Linked DNA regions of Homo sapiens. The protein of the gene in region 1 purifies or fractionates together with the protein of each later gene. This does not show direct contact. Each region holds a gene or a part of one and is shown in the gene's direction. Other genes may lie near its edges.

Region 1 (4,134 bases):
CCCGTCAGGTCAACATTGCCTTTTTCAGGGAAGCTCTGCAAGCCTGACCTCCCTTGGAAGTGCCTTAGGACTGGCTTCTTGCACAGTACACAACCTTTACTTATAGAGGGTTTGGAGATTATTCTTTATTCATGTCTTATTTCTCCTGCTCCTGGAGGAGATGACTCTGACTTCCACTGACTCTTTTGGGGGGCTTAAGTCAGGGTTGAGTACCAGAGGCCCTAAATAGCTGGACGTGGATTCTGGTAATATCAAATCCATCTTTGGCTTAACTGAGAGGTTCTGAAAGCTGGGACCTGACCTTGTCCATTTCCCTCTTTCTCCAGTTTCCTATTATTTCCCACTGTTTTTTTTAAAAGTTTTTTGTTTTCTTAAGTTTTCACAAGAATAAACATTGAAAATAAAATTTGCACAAAGATCGAACTAGGAAAGGCCACACAACCAACACATATTACATCATTATAGGTAAGTTAGCAGGGAGATTTCAGACCTGGGCTAGCTCTGGAACCACATTTTACACTGTTGAAAATAAAAGCTGGAGTACAGATGACTTTCCCAGGTTCACAGAGTTGGTAAGCTGGAGAGCTGCACCTGGAGCCAAGCAACCTGCCCTGTCCTTTCCACTGCACCCTCTAAGAAATCTAATTAGAAGGAACAGGTGGTATCTCATTTTGTACGGTGCTTTAGCAATGTACTATTTGCTTTCTAGTGTGTCTATTGTCTCGTTTGACATCTTCTCTCAAAAAGTGATGAAACGAAACGCTCTTTTTGACAAGTTCAGAGTGCTCTTGGTTCCTGTGTGGGATTCTTCCAAGTCTGAATTTGGTAGTGGGAAGAGAAGGAATCCGGAGGAAGGAGGATGAGAAGTTTAAAGGAGAGGAAAGGGAAGCAGAGAAGGCCGCAAGGTGCCTGCAAGATGTCTGGGGAGTTGGAGGAATGGAAGAGTGCCCCGCTCTTCCTTCTGGGAGAGCTCCAGCTAGGCAGAACCTTTCACCAAGGCTCTGATATCGTGCTGGTTTCCGAAAGCCCCAGCCGAAGGTGTGCAGCCAAAGGGTGACAGAAGGTGAGGCACGTGCGGGGGCGCGGGTGCTGACCGCCGCGGTGCGCCCTCCCTCCGACGTGCGGTGTGCGGGGCGCAGACAACCAGCGGCCGGCCCAGGGCTTTCGGGGAGCGAAGCAGGGCTCCCGAGGCACCGAGCGAGAATGGGAATGGGAGGGACCCGGTGCTCCCGGACACGCCCCCGGCAGGTCCCACGCCCGGGTCTTCTGAGACCTCGCGCGGCCCAGCCCGGGAGCGGCCCAGCTATATAAGTCCCAGCGGAAGACCGGAACGCAGAGGGTCCTGCTGGCGCGAGGGTGGGTAGGAGGGGACGCGGGGACTCGGCCCCCAACACCGCGCTCCGTCTGCAGCCGCCGCCTCTGCACCGCCGCTGCCCGGCGGTCGGTTCAAAAAACAGAAATCGGGTTTGCTGCCCGGCGGACAGGCGTGAAGAGCAAGGGAAAGGAACTTCCTCCACCTTCGGGGCTGGAGCCCTTTTCCTCTGCATCTCCAGTCTCTGAGTGAAGATGGGGGGCCTGACAGCCTCGGACGTACACCCGACCCTGGGGGTCCAGCTCTTCTCAGCTGGAATAGCGGCGTGCTTGGCGGACGTGATCACCTTCCCGCTGGACACGGCCAAAGTCCGGCTCCAGGTAGCTAGGCAGAGGGGTAAGACAAGGGGTCTCAGGACAGAGGGGACGCTGTTGCGTGCATTCCATTTATTCTCTGCTTTGGTGTAACCACTGTTTCTAGGTAGGGTAGGTGACCTTCCAAAGCAGTCTGGCCTTGTCCCAGGGCTGGTGCTTTAGGATGGGAAACTGGAACTTTTTCTGGGATTAGCTGAAGAACCACCAGGGCCACAGAGAATGGGTTGACCATGACTACTACCAAATTCTCCCAAAATTTAGGGTGCACTTAGTATTTTAAGAGCTGAGAATATTGGCCTCTCCTGAGTTTACTAGTCAGGTGCTTTTTCCTTTCTTTGATTCTTCGGGGGTTCTGTCCTATCCTACTGCCCTAGGGGTTCTGGAGAGTTCCTGGGGAGGGGGATATTCAAAATGTGCATTGTAGCCAGCCTCCCTCCATCTGCGCGTGAGCGAACACACACACACACACACACACACACACACACACACACACACACACACGGTAGAGGGAGGTGGATGGAAGAGGAATGTTGCTGAGAAAAGAAACGGAAAATAGGAACACAGGGGGAAATCTTGGCTTAAGAGTGAACTCAATTTCGCTCCCTTCTGTTCTGCACCTTTCTTATTTCCAGGTCCAAGGTGAATGCCCGACGTCCAGTGTTATTAGGTATAAAGGTGTCCTGGGAACAATCACCGCTGTGGTAAAAACAGAAGGGCGGATGAAACTCTACAGCGGGCTGCCTGCGGGGCTTCAGCGGCAAATCAGCTCCGCCTCTCTCAGGATCGGCCTCTACGACACGGTCCAGGAGTTCCTCACCGCAGGGAAAGAAAGTAAGCCGTGAGCGTTCCTGGGAGGGGCAGAAAAGCCTTGGGCTCCGCTCTGTTCCAAAAAGTGTAACACACAGAGGAGTGGTTTTCATAACAAATTGGCGAGAAAACATTCATATTTGAACTCTCCCTTCCCCAAACATTAGCTCATTGTTCATAGAAAAAAGTATGCAAAATCGATTTTTTAGATGCAGATATATACTTGTAAAGGTCACCCAGTCATGGAAGTTTTGTGCCCAGTTTGGATCTCCATCTGGAGAATATGGGTGGGCTACAGAAAAATGTTTAACTTAAAGTTCTCCAAAGAGGGAAGTATATCAGAAACATCTATGGAGCTTGTCAGAAATCCAAACGAGGACTACCATGGTCCTCTGAGTCTGAATCCTCAGGCTAGAGACCAGAGTGTCTTTCCACAAGCTTCCCTCATCATTTGTGTATGCAACAAAGTTCAAAGCCTTCTGTTTGAAGCAAAGAAAGCCAGACTTTGTGAAGAGAGTTGAAAGGACAGGAAAAGACATATTTCCTCTTAAGAGGTTCCTCATCAGGTCCAGGAAAGACCAGAGCAGAAAAAGTGGACGAATGCTGCAGGGAGTTTGTTTAGGGGAAAAAGAAAAGGAAACATATTTCCTGAGTGCCAGTGCACTCTAAGAATTCCTGTCACTTTAGGTAGCATTTATTTGAGGGCTTAACTATGAACCAGACATTGTTCTAAGTGCTTCAGATACATTATAACTGGAAGGGTATTAGTACCATTATCCCTTGGCAGATGGGAAAACTGAACACAGAGCAGATTCATCACTTGCCCAAGGTCACACAGCTGGGAGGGGGCAGAGCCAGGGTTCAAACCCAGGCAGTCTGGCCTCGGACTCCAGGCTCCTAACCCTGTTCTCTACTGCCTTCTGCACTTCTCATATGATTCTGCCCATCATTCAAACCGCACAACACTGCTGTGAGTAAAAAGTGTTAGCCGAATATCAGGGTAGTTAAGTAACATGCACAAAATCACACAGCTAATCAACATCAGAGGCACTTTCATGTGGAGTAGACAAGCCAGAGAGAAGATGTGCTGATGGCACAATGAATACATTAAGTGAAATCCACCTTGTAGATTTCATCATTTCTGCTGTGAGTAACCTTCAATACTATAATTTTATGGGATAATTTATAAATGTTGTCTATACAAATATATAAGTTATACTTATCCACACAAGTACTTTCAAAGTGAAGATAAAGTCTGGATGTTACTAGATCAAAACTGCATTTTTTTATTTATAGATGTAGCAAGAGAGGAAACACAAAGGAGGTAAAGCTGCCCGTTCAGGTGGTTTTCTTCACAGATTGACTGTTCTACCAATTGTTGTGGACTTTGGGCACCAAATTAATAGGATATATGTTGGCAGTGTTCTATGTTATATAGATTCAGTTTATTTAGTAGGCTTTATTGAACTGCCATGTGCCAGTAACTATGTTAGATGTTTAGATGGCAGATGTGTCTCTAGACAGAGCTTACAGTTGAGAGTATGGGTTGTGTGGGGAGAAGTGAATAGATGACTATATTCCATGATACATGCTGTATTACAATACAGTCCTACTTCACTTAACGATGGGGATACATTCTCA
Region 2 (4,291 bases), on another chromosome or scaffold:
ACTAACACAGGCCTCCATAACAACTGTTTCAGTACTGACTGAGTGGTGAAGTTAAATATTAAAAGCTGAAAAAAGCCAGTACCTTTATACAGAGGCTGGATGTAACAAAAGCCCACCAAGAGTTTTGCTTAGGCCTTTCCTGGGCCTTAAAGCATGACAAAACAATGAAGGAATTCTTAACAGGACCTATTTAGAATTAAACAAGTTTTATTGTGAGTCTGAAGAAACTCCCCAGGCCTCCACAAACAAGTTTATTGGGCGTCTGAAGGAACTCCCCAAACCTCCGTGATTTAGCAGGAGACAAGATAAGGGTAATCATCCCCCGCACCTGGACCCATTTAGATTAAATAAATAGACTGAGGCTCCAGAATAAGGTCCTCAGGACCCAGACCTCAGTTACAGATTAAAGAAGTTAATCACTTATGTCTTTAGATGAATGCACACTTACTTGTAGACATATACCTTAGAAGGTATATATGCTCTGGAAAACTTTGTAATATTGAGTTGGTCTGGTGGTAATTTCTAGGCCTTCTCCCTGTTACCGGTTGCAGAAATAAAACCTCTCTTCCTCCCCATTTGATCTGCATCTCGTTATTGGGCCTAGAGAAATAGCAGCCGGACCCTCAGTTTGGTCCGGGAAGTTCTTCCATCCTCCCTCGCCTGCTCTCTGTGGCCACTGCACTCACTGTTGCTGTTGCTGTTCCGGTCTCTGTGAGGTTCACCTAGTGGACTGGCTGGACATTTCTAGGGGGCACCTCAGATACCTCACCAACTTGCTGGATCTGATCCTTGGATTTCGATTCATAAATTGTGCCAAAATACGAAGTGGCTAATTTACACAGTACTTAGCCAGATGACCGAAGGACTCAGTACCCGAGGGCCCCTAACAGAAAACACAGACCACATTTCCTTTACTCTGGCCCTTTTCCTGGGGGTCCTTCCTATACCACTGACACTGTTCCTGTGTAGGCGGGGCTAGAGGGGAGACTAAGCCCTGGGAGTAGCTTTCGGATCAGAGGAAGTCCTGCTCTTACAGTGACAGGGGCTGAATTAAATTCCCAGGTTGGGGCCACCACTTTTTAGTCTGACCCCTGCAGCCGGAGTCTCCCAGAGCCCTTGGGAACTCGGCAGCGGAGAGAAGGCTGAGGGACACCGCGGGCAGGGAGGAGAAGGGAGAAGAGCTTTGCTCCGTTAGGATCTGGCTGGTGTCTCAAGCGCACAGCCAAGTCGCTGTGGACCTAGCAAGGGCTGGATGGACTCGTGGAGCCTCAGGGCTGGGTAGGGAAGCTGGCGAGGCCGAGCCCCGCCTTGGGCTTCTGGGCGCCCTGACTTCGCTCCCGGAACCCTCGGGCCTGGGAGGCGGGAGGAAGTCTTACTGAGTGCAGCCCCAGGCGCCCTCTCCCGGGCCTCCAGAATGGCGCCTTTCGGGTTGTGGCGGGCCGAGGGGCGGGGTCGCAGCAAGGCCCCGCCTGTCCCCTCTCCGGAGCTCTTATACTCTGAGCCCTGCTCGGTTTAGGCCTGTCTGCGGAATCCGCACCAACCAGCACCATGCCCATGATACTGGGGTACTGGGACATCCGCGGGGTGAGCGAGGGTCCGCTGGACGGTGGGACGAGGGCGCAGGGGAGGGAAGTGCGAAGCAGCTGCGGGACGGACTCTAGGGACCGTTCCTCTTCAGGGCTGCCCGCCTCAGAAGGGCCTGTGCATGCCGCTGTGTGTGTGTTGGGGGTGTGGGCGGGTAGAGGAGGCAACGGGTACGTGCAGTGTAAACTGGGGGCTTCCCTGGTGCAGACAAAGTCAGGGACCCTCCATCTCTGACGCGACCTGCGGGCCATCTCTCCCAGCTGGCCCACGCCATCCGCCTGCTCCTGGAATACACAGACTCAAGCTATGAGGAAAAGAAGTACACGATGGGGGACGGTAATGGCACCCTCGTGTTCGGGCTCTGCCCACTCACGCTAAGTTGGCACCAAGCAACCCATGGTGGCCACCTGTGGCTGCCTCTGCAGGCCTCCCCTGCTGGAGCTGCAGGCTGTCTCTTCCCTGAGCCCCGGTGAGGGAGCCCTCTGGCCTTGCAAGGCAGAATGCTGGGGTGGGATGCTGGGCCCCCTGTCTAATTGGGACGGGTGTCCCTCAGGGCTTGCCTAAACCCTGGAAGCCTTAGCTGTGTGGGGTCCAGAGCCCTCAGCGGGATTCTTTGTCCCTGAACCCTGGGATGTGGGACTGAGTGGTCAGATTCTAGATCCACCTGTCTCAGGGATCTTGCCACTGGCTCCGTGGGAGGGTCCCCGGGAAGGAGGGCTGGGCTCTGGGGAGGTTTGTTTTCACTTCTTCTTCCCCACCACAGCTCCTGATTATGACAGAAGCCAGTGGCTGAATGAAAAATTCAAGCTGGGCCTGGACTTTCCCAATGTAGGTGCAGGGGAAGGGGCGGTTTTGGGGGAAAGTGCAACGTGTCTCTGACTGCATCTCCTCTCCCCAGCTTAGAGGTGTTAAGATCAGGAGTCTTCTGCCCAATTCCTCTCACTCCTGGCTGTCTAAACAGTCCTTCCATGATGTTCTGTGTCCACCTGCATTCGTTCATGTGACAGTATTCTTATTTCAGTCCTGCCATGAGCAGGCACAGTGAGTGCCCGGTCTCCTCTCTGCTCTTGCTTATGGGAAGGGGATGCTGGGGAGCCTGGTGGCCCAACTGAGCTTCGCCGGTTTCCCATCCATCCAGCTGCCCTACTTGATTGATGGGGCTCACAAGATCACCCAGAGCAACGCCATCTTGTGCTACATTGCCCGCAAGCACAACCTGTGTGAGTGTGGGTGGCTGCAATGTGTGGGGGGAAGGTGGCCTCCTCCTTGGCTGGGCTGTGATGCTGAGATTGAGTCTGTGTTTTGTGGGTGGCAGGTGGGGAGACAGAAGAGGAGAAGATTCGTGTGGACATTTTGGAGAACCAGACCATGGACAACCATATGCAGCTGGGCATGATCTGCTACAATCCAGAATTTGTGAGTGTCCCCAGTGAGCTGCATCTGACAGAGTTTGGATTTGGGGCCAGGACTCTTGCATTCCTGCACACACTGGTCTTAAGTCCCTGGTACCATTCATCCTCCAAGTGCTTTCCCATACTATCAGCAGTTATTCTCACGACTCCAATGTCATGTCAACAAAAGCAGAGGCAATTCCCACCAACCTTAGGACACGATCCAGGCATCCCAGGGTAGAAATTCAGTTCCTGTATGGTAAAGTTTGTGTTCAGAATCTCCTTCATCAGCTCTGGCCTCTGACTTCTGTCCTGGGTCATTTCTGTCAGCCAGTTCACATCACCTGCCTGCTCCTAGAATATGCAGACTCAAGTAGAAGACTCAGGAATGTAATGGCACCCTCGAATTGCATCTTCTCCTCAACAGTTTTCTGAGTGCTGTCATTGACATGCACAGGGATCTGCGCATTTTCATAACAGACAGCTCAGAGGCAGTCAGAGGGCCTTTATTCCTCTCCCTCCTTCCTTTCAACTTGAACTTCTCATCTCCCTGGAAACTAGTCAATGTTCATTGTTTTCTTCTGCCACCCCATTAGAAGGAACTTTCTACTTTCCCTGAGCTCCCTTAGTTCTTTGCATCCTTGATTCTGCTGGTCTGGATCCAGAGGCTGCCAGGTGCTTGGGCGCTCCTGGGGCTGACCCAGAGGCTATTGGGAGGTCAGTGAGGACAGATTCAGGGACAGCATCTCATTCCTCTCTGCCTTCTGATCAGTTTAGATAGGGTCTGGCACTCAGTCAGAGTCTAATAAATGCTGATGTATCCAATTGAAGCCTGGGCACTGCCCCAGTTCCAGCTTGGGGAAGATGGCTGCTTGCCCATGGCCAGCCTGGGCCGTCCACAGCCCCGGGGAGGCCACGTCTGTGCAGGGAGCTTTTGTCCGAGGGTGGTGACAGCTGTTTTCTGCCTCAGGAGAAACTGAAGCCAAAGTACTTGGAGGAACTCCCTGAAAAGCTAAAGCTCTACTCAGAGTTTCTGGGGAAGCGGCCATGGTTTGCAGGAAACAAGGTAAAGGAGGAGTGATATGGGGAATGAGATCTGTTTTGCTTCACGTGTTATGGAGGTTCCAGCCCACATATTCTTGGCCTTCTGCAGATCACTTTTGTAGATTTTCTCGTCTATGATGTCCTTGACCTCCACCGTATATTTGAGCCCAAGTGCTTGGACGCCTTCCCAAATCTGAAGGACTTCATCTCCCGCTTTGAGGTGATGCCCCCATCCTCCTTTCTCTTTGATGCCCCTTGTTCCGTTACCTCCT

Evidence for each region. The genes of interacting proteins can lie anywhere in the genome.
Region 2: the proteins of UCP1 (region 1) and GSTM1 purify together in Homo sapiens (affinity purification with mass spectrometry, with the first as the bait; one large-scale study listed by BioGRID). This does not show direct contact.

The regions. Positions count from the first base shown.
Region 1 is NC_000004.12:140,566,162-140,570,295, reverse strand, and holds the start of UCP1 (mitochondrial brown fat uncoupling protein 1), read left to right. Parts: upstream 1-1,334; 5' UTR 1,335-1,566; coding exon 1,567-1,692; intron 1,693-2,318; coding exon 2,319-2,517; intron 2,518-4,134.
Region 2 is NC_000001.11:109,686,326-109,690,616, forward strand, and holds the start of GSTM1 (glutathione S-transferase Mu 1), read left to right. Parts: upstream 1-1,491; 5' UTR 1,492-1,548; coding exon 1,549-1,584; intron 1,585-1,791; exon of another isoform or gene 1,792-1,844; coding exon 1,845-1,920; intron 1,921-2,347; coding exon 2,348-2,412; intron 2,413-2,722; coding exon 2,723-2,804; intron 2,805-2,899; coding exon 2,900-3,000; intron 3,001-3,945; coding exon 3,946-4,041; intron 4,042-4,128; coding exon 4,129-4,239; intron 4,240-4,291. UniProt on the Homo sapiens protein: Conjugation of reduced glutathione to a wide number of exogenous and endogenous hydrophobic electrophiles. Involved in the formation of glutathione conjugates of both prostaglandin A2 (PGA2) and prostaglandin J2 (PGJ2).